Homo sapiens: one gene and its partner. The protein of the gene in region 1 interacts with the protein of each later gene in a pairwise test. Each region holds a gene or a part of one and is shown on either strand. Other genes may lie near its edges.

Evidence for each region.
Region 2: the proteins of CWF19L2 (region 1) and FXR2 interact in binary tests that used the Homo sapiens proteins (3 or more experiments, as listed by UniProt).

Annotation. Positions count from the first base shown.
Region 1 is NC_000011.10:107,325,211-107,329,005, forward strand, and holds the end of CWF19L2 (CWF19-like protein 2), read right to left. Parts: intron 1,844-3,795; coding exon 1,700-1,843; 3' UTR 1,150-1,699; downstream 1-1,149.
Region 2 is NC_000017.11:7,611,377-7,619,555, forward strand, and holds the start of FXR2 (RNA-binding protein FXR2), read right to left. Parts: upstream 3,522-8,179; 5' UTR 3,157-3,521; coding exon 3,076-3,156; intron 2,736-3,075; exon of another isoform or gene 2,688-2,735; intron 1-2,687. UniProt on the Homo sapiens protein: mRNA-binding protein that acts as a regulator of mRNAs translation and/or stability, and which is required for adult hippocampal neurogenesis. Specifically binds to AU-rich elements (AREs) in the 3'-UTR of target mRNAs.

The DNA of each region.
Region 1 (3,795 bases):
ACATCTACTTCATATATATGCCTAAGTGTATGTTGCAAATATTCAAAAACTGAAAACATTAAACTTCAACTTATTTATGAAATCAAAAAAAACTACAGACAGAACACATACATTTTGCTTTTTAACATATTAGGGAAGCAATGAGATGCTAACATAAAACATACAGACATGGATGAAGCTGGAAACCACCACTCTCAGCAAACTATCACAAGAATAATCCAGCAAACTATCACAAGAATAGAAAGCCAAACACCGCATGTTCTCACTCATAAGTGGGAGTTGAACAATGAAAACACATGGACACAGGGAGGGGAACATCACACACCGGGGCCTGTCAGGGGGTCGGGGGGCTAGGGAGGGATAGCATTAGGAGAAATACCTAATGTGGATGATGGGTTGATGGGTGCAGCAAACCACCATGTCACATGCATACCTATATAACAAAACTGCACGTTCTGCACATGTACCCCAGAACTTAAAATATAATTTAAAAAAGAGAAGAAACAATGTGTAGAGTTATAAGTTACAGTGGAGCACACCTCACACTGAATCTAGGTATCCAACATTTCATACAAAAAGGTTCAGCTTCCAAAAAGCCAATAGCTGAAAAAAAAGTTACTACAACAATAATTTCCATTAAGAAAAAGAAAAGTAGGAGCACTCAAAACATAAAAACCCTATACTTACAAAATATGACTATGGTGTGAGTTGAGAACAAATAAAAATTACGTTCCTTGGATCAAGTAAGGGACAACAGAATGTCCCATACTCTCATCCAGGCATGGTGGCTCATACCTGCAATCCCAGCACTTTGGGAAGCTGAAACAGGAGGATAGCTTGAGACTAGGAGTTCAAGGCTACAGTGAACTATGATTGGGCCACTGCACTCCAGCCTGGGTGACAAAGCCAGACTCTGTCTTAATAAATAAAAACAAAACAAAAAGATAAATAAATAAAAACTCTCATTACTTAAGATTTTACGACAATCAGTACAACTCAAAACCAATGATTTGGCTATAAATTTTAACTTTCATGCAAACCCCAAACAACCCTAAAATATGTTATTTGGAAGAATTACTTTTAGAACCACCAAAATTCAAAGATACTATTTAAAAATCCAGAAATAAAAACAAATTTGAATCATACAAATTTTCAGTATCATTTAATTCTTTAATACTTTGGGGACATTTCCTTTTCCTTTAACAAAAAGAATAGAAGTGATACTATATACTGCTAGTAGAAAATTAAGAGCTTTTCTATAAAATCCTATGAAATTAAAATTAAATCGTCTTATTTTTAAAAATGCAAAAGAAGCCAGACAGTAGACTTAACAACCATGAAGCAGACCCACTTCCCTCTGAACCAAGGATTTCCTATGCTTTTTAGATATCCCTTCAGAAAAGGCCTTCTCTAAATTAACTGAACAATTCGGAATACCAAGAAGTAGGTAGAGAGCAGGAATGTGAGCAGATCATCGAATATATGTTTTTACTCCATGGTGACTAAAATGAAGTCCATAGATAGGAGCAGGTGAAGAAGAAAACAACACAATCTCCTGATGTACAGTTGTCACTGACCCAGAGCAGTCTGCTGCTGTGACTCTCTCTGCCTGTGACCTGAGGGTCAGTTGCTTCATTAGATGCAATGGAAATAAAACTGAACGGGATCTGAAGAAAAATTTTAAAATGGAAGGTACACCTCAATAGTTTTTACTTTTGGTGAAGTCATATGGTTTCCACCACTGAGCAAACTGCAGTGCTTTTTTCCTCTGATCCTCAAAGCTTTCTCGGATGCCTTTCCTCCAAAGTCTTGGTTCTATATCCAGCATCCCACCTATGATTTCCTTTTAAAGAAAGAGAAAAGCACAAACACAAGCATGTATAAATAATGAAAACAGAAATGAAACTATTTCTGTTTATTCTGCTATAAAATATAACAAGTTCTTCTCCATGACAATGTTCAAGCATAAATACTAGTTGAAGTTAAAAAAATATGTTTTCAGTTAATTCTAACTAGGCAAACCGTGTGATTCTAAGAGTCCAAGTTAGCTGCATCTCCTATCAAGCAATTTGTCCATTTTGTTGCTTATTAGCACATCTACTAGATGGTAACAAAGGGGAGGGAAAACAAGTGAAATTTAATTAATATGATCTCTATTAGAGGCTCCCGTAAACAATTTTGCAAAAATGTTAATCAACTTCTAGCAATTATTAACTTTACTGCTCAACTGCAGTTGAATCCCAAGCTAATGTTCTCTCTCTGCTACCAAGTATATTTATAAATTAGTTTCTTCCACTATTAGCAGAAATCTTTTTTCATGAAACAAAATCCTATTGTAATACTAGTTTAAGTAAACCTATTGATAGAATTAAAAATTATATATCACTTTCATTTAAAAAATCACATTCTCAAGTCCCATAATAAATGGCTTTTTGGTTATCTGATTATTATTCTTGATTTCCTTCATGATCCTCTTCCTGTGCTGTTAGCTATAGAAATAAATCAAATTTAGGCATGTGAGTATCCATGAACAGAAAGACATGGGGGAGCCTCCTAATGCTTAAATGCTTAGAGGGAGGGCAGTATGGTAACAAAGCAAAAAACAAAAAACAAAACAACAACAACAAAAAACAGACTAAGGATCAAATTCTGCATAGTCGGTCTAGCTCCACCAGACTGTGTGGTGAGATCCTGCACAAACCACATAATCTTTCAGATGCAGGTTCTTCATCTTACTTAGGGACCTACTATGCAGAAGCAAATGCCGTATGTTGTAGGGGATACAGAGATTGTGGGGTGAAGACACACAGTTGTCTTCAGACAGAATAGAATCTGGAGCTGTGGTGGGAGGAATAATAATCCAGCTATGCAGCAGACTGTCTCATAAAGTAGAAGGTAAGTGTCAAAGCAGACCATTTGTGGAGACTCAAAAAAAAAAAAAAAAAAACAATCTATTTGTTGGCCAGACCAGGAGATGCTTCATGGAAAAGGGAATCTCCTGTCATCAGGGAAGGGAAATAAAGGGGTCAACAGAGATAGTAGAAAAGAGAAATAGGGCAAATTGAGATTTAGTTCAAGAGTTTCTCAGCATCGGTCCAAATAAGCAATGTAGTTTAAGAAAGCCTAGCTTATAAAAGTTTACCTAAAATTGTCTATAAAATACCAAGTTTTGTCTTACATCTACCATATAAGCTTGACTCTTGTTCTGTTATCAAAGCAGCTGTTAATGGAAAGACTATCCCCATAATCTCTTCTTGCTCTCTGAACAACTGCTTCAGCAGCAGACTGCAGGGAGGTCTTGAGCCCACAGGCTATTTCTTAAAAAGCAAATTTTGAGGAAAATGGCTCAGTGACGCAATGCTGACAGAGAAAATTTACTTTTAACTCCAAAACTGAATCATATAAACCAGAATGCATGAATAATATGTGAAGAAAGGGCAATCTCCCAGTTTAATATATACAACTTTTTAAAAATGGATATTTTACTTCCTTTTTTCTAGGACCAAATTTTTGTTTTGTTTTGTTTTTCTGTTTTTGTTTTTAATAAATCCAGCCATAGAGCTTTTGGTTATAAAGCTCTACTGTATAACAACAGGATTTTTCAGAACAGTGAAAACACATTTCTTTCTAGTTAAAAAAAATTCTGAACACTTCTCAAACTTGTTTCTGTAATATGTTATAACAGTTCAAAGATGCATGTTACTTTGTTATGCTGGTTAACCCACTAAGGACAAGAGCATTAAAAAGTTTTGAATCAAACCTCTGGAGTTGAGATTCCTCTTCAGATATTTCTAC
Region 2 (8,179 bases), on another chromosome or scaffold:
AAAACTGACGGGAGGGCGTGGTGGCTCACGCCTGTAATCCCAGCACCTTGGGAGGCCAAGGCGGGCGAATCTCTTGAAGTCAGGAGTCAGAAACCAGCCTGGCCAACATAGCGAAACCCCGTCTCTACTGAAAATACAAAAATTAGCCAGGCATGGTGTTGCACACCTGTAATCCCAGCTACTCGGGAGGCTGAGGCACAAGAATCACTTGAACCTGGGAGGCGGAGGCTGCAGTGAGACGACATCACGCCACTGTACTCCAGCCTGGATGACAGAGGGAGACCCTGTCTCAAATAAAAAAAAAAGGAAAAGAAAGAAAAGAAAACTGACAACAGGGCCCAATTCTGAGAGAGGAGAAAGGGACCTTCCCAAATGTACAATTCCAGAAGCAGTGTAAATACTCCCTGACCCATCCCAAGTTTGCTGAGTCATGAATATTAAATCAGCAGCAAGGTCAAAACGGATAAGTATCTGTAGGGTACTGAGAGTGGAAGATTAGCCTGAATTTAGGGATTTGTGGTTTTTAACTCAGGAACAGGGCAGAAAATGCTAACCTGCCCAGATCCACATTACCACATTACCTGGCTTTCAGCTCAACCCCAAACTCTACTCTCTGAATCACAGTATCCTGGTCCCCATCTATTCAAGTCTATCACTGCCACAGCACACAGGAGAAAGGGAAAAGATTCAGAGAGACTTTCTGCTGGACACTTATATGTGGGACAGAAAACGTGTCCCTTCCCAGCCATCTCATACAGTTCATTTGAACTGGATACCAATCTTTCTCAGCTGTGCAGGGCTCCTACGCTTCCTAGAACAAAGCAAACATCATATCTTGATCTTGGACTCAACTTAAGAATCACTTTTCTTGGAACTCAGAATTTGGGGGTGGTAAGGACCCAGATGAAGGAAAAGATACCAAGGTAAACAGGGAGGGCCACTTTAGGAAGCTATTTCAACAAAGGTAATGCAAGTTTGGGGAAAAGGATATGAGAGACAAATGTGCTCTATCAAAAGCAGAAAGGAATTAGAGACTTTTGCCAAAGAAAACAGAAATGCTATGGAGGCAGGCTAGAAGAAAAAGTCCCAAGAGTTAGGCAAGTATGCACAAAATGACAAAAAGAGATCAGCAGGGAGCTTCCTTCAGCTAGACAGGGAATAAGGTGATTCCTGGGGATTACACAGGAATACAGAAATATTAGGAGAAAAAGCTAAAAACTTGAATTGAGAAGGTAAGTTAGACATGGGTACCCACAGTCACCGCAGAGAAATAAATCTGATGAGGGAAGTAAGGCAAAAATGGGTAAGTATGAAGAGTGAGTAAAAAATGACTACAATGGCCGGGCGCGGTGGCTCACGCCTGTAATCCCAGCACTTTGGGAGGCCGAAGCAGGTGGATCACTAGGTCAGGAGATCGAGACCATCCTGGCTAACACAGTGAAACCCCGTCTCTACTAAAAATACAAAAAAATAGCCGGGCATGGTGGTGGGCACCTGTAGTCCCAGCTACTCGGGAGGCTGAGGCAGGAGAATGGCGCGAACCAGGGAGGCGGAGCTTGCAGTGAGCCAAGATCGCACCACTGCACTCCAAGCCTGGGCAACAGGGCGAGACTCCATCTCAAAAAAAAAAAAAAAAAAAAAAAAAATGACTACAATGCACTTAGCAACTGAAGTACAGGCAGAAACCACCCAAGAGAAATTACAAGACCCTCTGCAGTTATAGAAAAATATGACTTAGAGAAGGAGTCAAAGAAAGACATTTCCAAGGGCATGAGAAACTAGAGAGGACTACAGTGGGGGAAAAAGGCCTGAGGGGAACTGAAGGAAAGGGGGAAGGGGGATCCACTCTTAACAAGTGATGCCATGGGAAGGTATCTCTTCCCCAGCTCCCCAGGGTGAAATCAAAGAATGAGACAGAAATCAGGAGAGTCTCTAGGACAATTCCAGGCATCAAATCCAAGAGGTTCAGAATACCAACAGTCACACAAAGAAAAACTCTTGGGAGGCAAGAAAGGGCTCTCTCTGGCTTAATCTAAATGGGAAAAAAATGTCCTAGAAAATAGATTCAGAGCAGATAAGGAAGGTGGTATTATAAGGAGTTCTAAGGAACCAAATCCTGGGCAAAGGGGGAGGTGAAATAAGGAAGGGTCTTTGAAAGATGATCCCGTCTTCCAAAAAAGGTTGTCAGATTCCCGAACTGGGATAGTTGGCCAAGAGTCTTCAAGAAGTGGAAATCTTAAGATAAACAGAAGGGAACCTCATAAGCTTCCTTTCAGAGATCCTTTTAGAGATTATGACTATGAAGCTTACATGCCTCAAGACGAAGAAACTATATGAATGACCTGAAGGTATCTGAGGTCTAAGTGAGACCTCAAATCCATTCCTGAGTAGAATGGTAGAGCAGTGGGTCTTGAGATCAAGGTGTGGTGGGGAGAGAGACTTGCGAAAGATGCCACCTTATGGCTGGCTGGGAAGCAACTTGACTGATCCAACCCAGGGTTCCTGAGGTCAAAGATGCCAAACGTCGTAAATGGATCTGACCATTTCTCCTTGGCTTGGGAACCGGAATATAAGATGAAAGTGGGGTGAGTGTTCCAGAGCCAGTAGGCAGAGGCCTCTCTGAGGAAGATGAAAGGATCTTTTACGGGACAGAGGGCCTTCCCAAAGGGACCGTGTGGAAGAAAGACAATTCTCCATGTGCTTGGATCGTGGGGAAGATGTGATTAAGGTCTAAGGTATGTCTTCCACCAGACAACGGACACAGTCAATTAGAAGCTGGGTAAAGGGGTCTCTCCTGCGGAGCGGGGAGCGCCAAGCCAGGGACAATAATGGCCTGAAGTTCATTCTCCCGGAGATGGGGGTAGAAGCAGGTGCAGGTGCCTTAGAGGGGTCAAAAATAAGAGGAACAGGGTTCACTCTAAGCGGTCTCCCAGGGAAGGCTGCGGGTTGGAGCAAGGGTCCAAGATTCTAAGGGCCAGGACTCAGCTCCAGAAGCTCGATCCCGCCCCACGCGTTCCTGCTCCGGCCAGGGGAGGGGGCTAAGGACCGGCGTCCCCAGTCGGCGCGCCGTCTCACCTTGTAGAAGGCCCCGTTGGAGCCGCGCACCTCGACGGGCAGTCCCGGCTCCACATCCCCCCCAGAGGCCAGGCCGCCCATGGCGCCGCCACCGCCTCCGACTCCCCCGGCGGCGGCTGCAGCAGCAGTCTGAGTGCGGGCCGGGCCAGGCCCCCGGCGTCTCCCCGGAGGAGGAGCCGGAGGGGGAGCCGCGGGGGGCGGGAGCCGGGCCGGCCCCACGGCGGCCCTGCCACAGCCAACGAGCAGGGGGCCGGGGCCGGGCCGCTCCCCGTCCGCCGCCGCCGCCTTGGTCTCCGCCACCGTGAGGGAAACGGCCGCCGCCGCCGCTGCCTTCGTCACCTCAGCTTCCGCCCGCCGCCGCCCCCGCTGCTGCCTCAGTCCCGGGACCCGCTGCTGCCGCTGCCGCTCCACAGCCTCCACCTCCCCCTGCCACCGCCGCCTACTGCGCAGGCGCACCGGGCACCCGCCCGCTGCGCGCGGGGCCCCGAGGGCCACCGCGCAGGCGTCAAGGTTAGAGCCCCAGCTAGCGCCAGCTAGCGCATCGGGGCTTCCACATTCCCTTTCACTCTCTCACTCCCCCTCCTGGTCGCTTGCTAGCGCTTGCGCAGAACAAGATTAGCCTTCTTTCTTCACCGCTCCACCGCCCAGCCACCCCGTCTCTTCCTTTCCCCGCCCCACAACACTGAGAACCAACCAATCAGGGGGAGGGAGGGGCCGGGCTCGCTCAGTCCGATTGGGCGGCGTCCGCACAGTCACACAGCGCTCAGGCCACACCCACTCCGCCGCCGCTGGCCCCACCGGGCTTGGACAAGTTAGGGATGGGCATGCGCCTGAACGACTGCTTGGTCACTTTCCCCACCTTTGTCTTTCTTGGTGCGCACGCTCCAAAAAGAAAAAAAAAAGAAGAGGAGTCGCCGCAAGGAAAAAGGTGCTTGGTGCGCACGCGCTGAGCTTTACCCTCTTCGCGTATGCATCGCCGATATTTTAAGAATCTGTAACTCTCTACTGTAGTAGATTTAACAGTCATGGCTCTTACCTTGAAGAGATTGTGATACAATGAAAGTTTTGGCCGGGCGCGGTGGCTCACGCCTGTAATCCCAGCGCTCTGGGAGGCCGAGGCAGGTGGATCACCTGAGGTCCTCGGATCACCTGAGGTCAGGGGTTCGAGACCAGCGTGGCCAAAATGGTGAAACCCACCCCCCCCCCCACCCCGCATCTAATAAAATACAAAAATTAGCCGGGCGTGGTGACACGCGCCTGTAATCCCAGATACTCGGGAGGCTGAGGCAGGAGACTACCTTGAACCTGGGAGGCAGAAGTTGCAGTGAGCCAAGATCGCACCATTGCACTCCAGCCTGGGCGACAGAGCAAGACTCAGTCTCAAAAAAAAAAAAAAAAGAAAGAAAGAATAGAAAGAAAGCTTTAAGAATAGTTTCAGACGGGCGCTGTGGCTCACTCCTGTAATCCCAGCACTTTAGGAGGCTCAGGCGGTGGATCACTTGAGCCCAAAAGTTTGACACCAGCCTCAACAGGGCGAAACCCTGTTTCTACTAAAAATACAAAAATTAGGACGGGCGCGGTGGCTCAGGCCTGTAATCCCAGCACTTTGGGAGGCCGAGATCACGGGCGGGCGGATCACGAGGTCAGGAGATGGAGACCATTCTGGCCAACATGGTGAAACCTCGTCTCTACTAAAATACAAAAAATTAGCCGTGGTAGTTCCAGCTACTCGGAAGGAGTCCCAGCTACTCAGGAGGCTGAGGCAGGAGAATCGCTTGAACCTAGGAAGGTGGAGGTTGCAGTGAGTGGATATCATGCCACCACACTCCAGCCTGGGCAATGAGTGAAATTTCTTCTTTAAAAATAATAATAATGGCAGGGCGCGGTGGCTCATGCCTATAATCCCAACACTTTGGGAGGCCGAGACGGGCGGATCACGAGGTCAGGAGATCGAGACCATCCTGGCTAACACGGTGAAACCCCATCTCAACTAAAAATACAAAAAAAAAAAAAAAAAAAAAAAATTAGCTGGGCGTGGTGGCGGGCGCCTGTAGTCCCAGCTACTCGGGAGGCTGAGGCAGGAGAATGGCGTGAACCCAGGAGGCGGAGGTTGCAGTGAGCGGAGATCGTGCCACTGCACTCCAGCTGGGGCGACAGAGCGAGACTCCATCTCAACAACAACAACAACAAATAATAATAATAGTGGCCCGGCGCGGTGGCTCACGCCTGTAATCCCAGCACTTTGGGAGGCCAAGATGGGTGGATCACAAGGTCAGGAGTTCAAGACCAGCCTGGCCAACATGGTGAAACCCCATCTCTACTAAAAATACAAAAATTAGCTGGGCATGGTGGTGCATGCCTGTAAACCCAGCTACTTGGGAGGCTGAGGCAAGAGAATTGCTTGAACCTGGGAGGCAGAGGTTGCAGTGAGCCCAGATTGTGCCATTGCACTCCAGCCTGGGCAAAAAGAGCGACACTCTGTCTCAAAAAATAGTAATAATAATAATAAATAATGCTGGGGAAATTCAAAATAGGAAAAACTGTCATGAAATAAGGGTAGTAGCAGGAAAACTTCACATTCTGGGAGTTGTCCTATGTTCCATCCACTTCTTGGATTAGAGTAAATGGTAATGCCAATCATGGAAGAGATAACATAGGAGATAAAGGTTTAGAAAATAAGGTGATGAATTTACTTTTATTTTTTTTTTGCCCTTTGAGCTTAGCCACCACATCTGGCTAATTTTTAAATTTTTGTATTTAATGGTGGAGACAAACAGACTTGGAAGTCTCTGACTTCATAGTGTGATGGCAGAAGAAAGACACTGGAAAAATTATTAATATTTATAATAATTATTAATATTGCAACCATGGCCAGGCACAGGGCTCATGCCTGTAATCCCAGCACTTTGGGAGGCTGAGGCGGGTGGATCACCTGAGGTCACCTGAGGTCAGGAGTTCAAGACCAGTCTGGTGAAATTCCATCTCTACTAAAAATACAAAAATTAGCTGGGCATGGTGGCACGCGCTTGTAGTCCCAGCTACTCGGGAGACTGAGGCAGGAGAATCGCTTGCACCCAGGAGGCAGAGGTTGCAGTGAGCCAAGATTGTGCCACTGCACTCCAGCCTGGGTGACAGAGCGAGACTCCATCTCAAAAAATTAAAATAAAAAACAAAAATAAATAAAGGCGATAGAAGAAAGGAAAATAAAGTATAAGAAAATTAAAGGATTAGTCCATGGGATACAACATCTGAATAACCAGAATTCCAGAAAGTGATAACAGAAATAATTATCTGGAAAGGATAAAATCATCTAAAATCAATAGTAATAATTATTCAACAAAATTTTCCAAGGCCAGGTGTGGTGGCTCATGCCTGTAATCCTGGCACTTTGCGAGGCTGAAGCAGGCAGATCACTTGAGCTCGGGCGTTCAGGAGCAGCCTGGGCAACATGGCGAAACCCTTTCTCTACCAAAACTACAAAAATTAGCTGGGTGCGGCGGCTCACGCCTGTAATCCCAGCACTTTGGGATGCCGAGGTGGGTGGATCATCTGAGGTCAGGAGTTTGAGACCAGCCTGGCCAACATGGTGAAACCCCATCTCTACTAAAAATATAAAAATTAGCCACACGTGGTAGCGTGTGCCTGTAATCCCAACTACTCAGGAAGCTGAGGGAGGAGAATCTCTTGAACTTGGGAGGCTGAAGTTGCAGTGAGCCGAGATCACACCACTGCACTACATACAGCCTGGGTGACAGAGAAAGATTCTGTCTCAAAAAAAAAAATTATTTCCAACCTCGTTTCCTATACCTAGCCACACTCTCAATATTTTTTTGTTGTTGAGATAGAGTCTTACTCTGCCACTCAGACTGGAGTGCAGTGGTATGATCTCGGCTCACTGCAACCTCTGCCTCCCAGGTTCCAGTGATTCTCTTGCCTCAGCCTCCTGAGTAGCTGTGATTATAGGTGCCCACTGCCACAGCTGGCTAGGTTTGTTTTTTTTGTTTTTGTTTTTGTTTTTGTTTTTTTTGTATTTTTAGTAAAGACGGGGTTTCACCACGTTGGCCAGGCTGGTCTCAAACTCCTCACCTCAGGTGGGTCACCCACCTCGGCTGCCCAAAGTGTTGGGATTATAGGCATGAGCCACTGCGCCCGGCCCACACTCTCAATTAAGTGCAGTAATAGAACAGACATTTTCAGGCTTTTAAGTTCCCAACAAATTTACCTCCCGGTACTCTTTCTCAAAAAGCTCCATCAAAATAAGAAGAGTAAACATAGAAAGAGGAAACACAGGTTCCAGGAAACAGGACGTCAACACAAGAGAGAGGCAAAGGGGATCCCCAGGATAAAGGTGAAGGGAGATCCCAATTGCGCAGCCTCAAGATCGCCTCTCTGGACTGGAGCAGGTCTAAGAGCTTTTTGAGAAAGTTCTTCAAAATGACGTAGATTGAAATCCCTAAGTGTTTGTATATCCTTATAAGAGATTAATTAAGGGAGAATTTGGGGATAAATTAGAGTACACAGGAAACTAAGCAAACAGAGAGGACAAGGCAGTTATTAATTCCAGGGAAAACAAAAATGGTACAGGAAAGAAAAAGAATTGTAACTATCCACATGGATCATACGTGTATTCGTATAATCATAATAATCATAATAATGAGGCCAGGCATGGTGGCTCACACCTGTAATCCCAGCATTTTGGGAGGCCGAGGTGGGCAGATCACCTGAGGTCAGGAGTTCAAGACCAGCCTGACCAACATGGAGAAACTCCATCTCTACTAAAAATACAAAATTAGCCAGGTGTGGTGGCACATGCCTGTAATCCCAGCTACTCGGGAGGCTGAAGCAGGAGAATTGCTTGAACCTAGCAGGCAGAGGTTGCAGTGAGCCAAGATCGCGCCATTGCACTCCAGCCTGGGCATTAAGGGTGAAACTCCATCTCAAAAAAAAAAAAAAATCATAATAATGTAAATGCTAAGGCTGGTGCGGTGGCTCATGCCTGTAATCCCAGCACTTTGGGAGGTCAAGATAGGCGGATCATGAGGTCAGGAGTTCGAGACCAGCCTGACCAACATGGTGAAACCCCATCTCTACTAAAAATACAAAA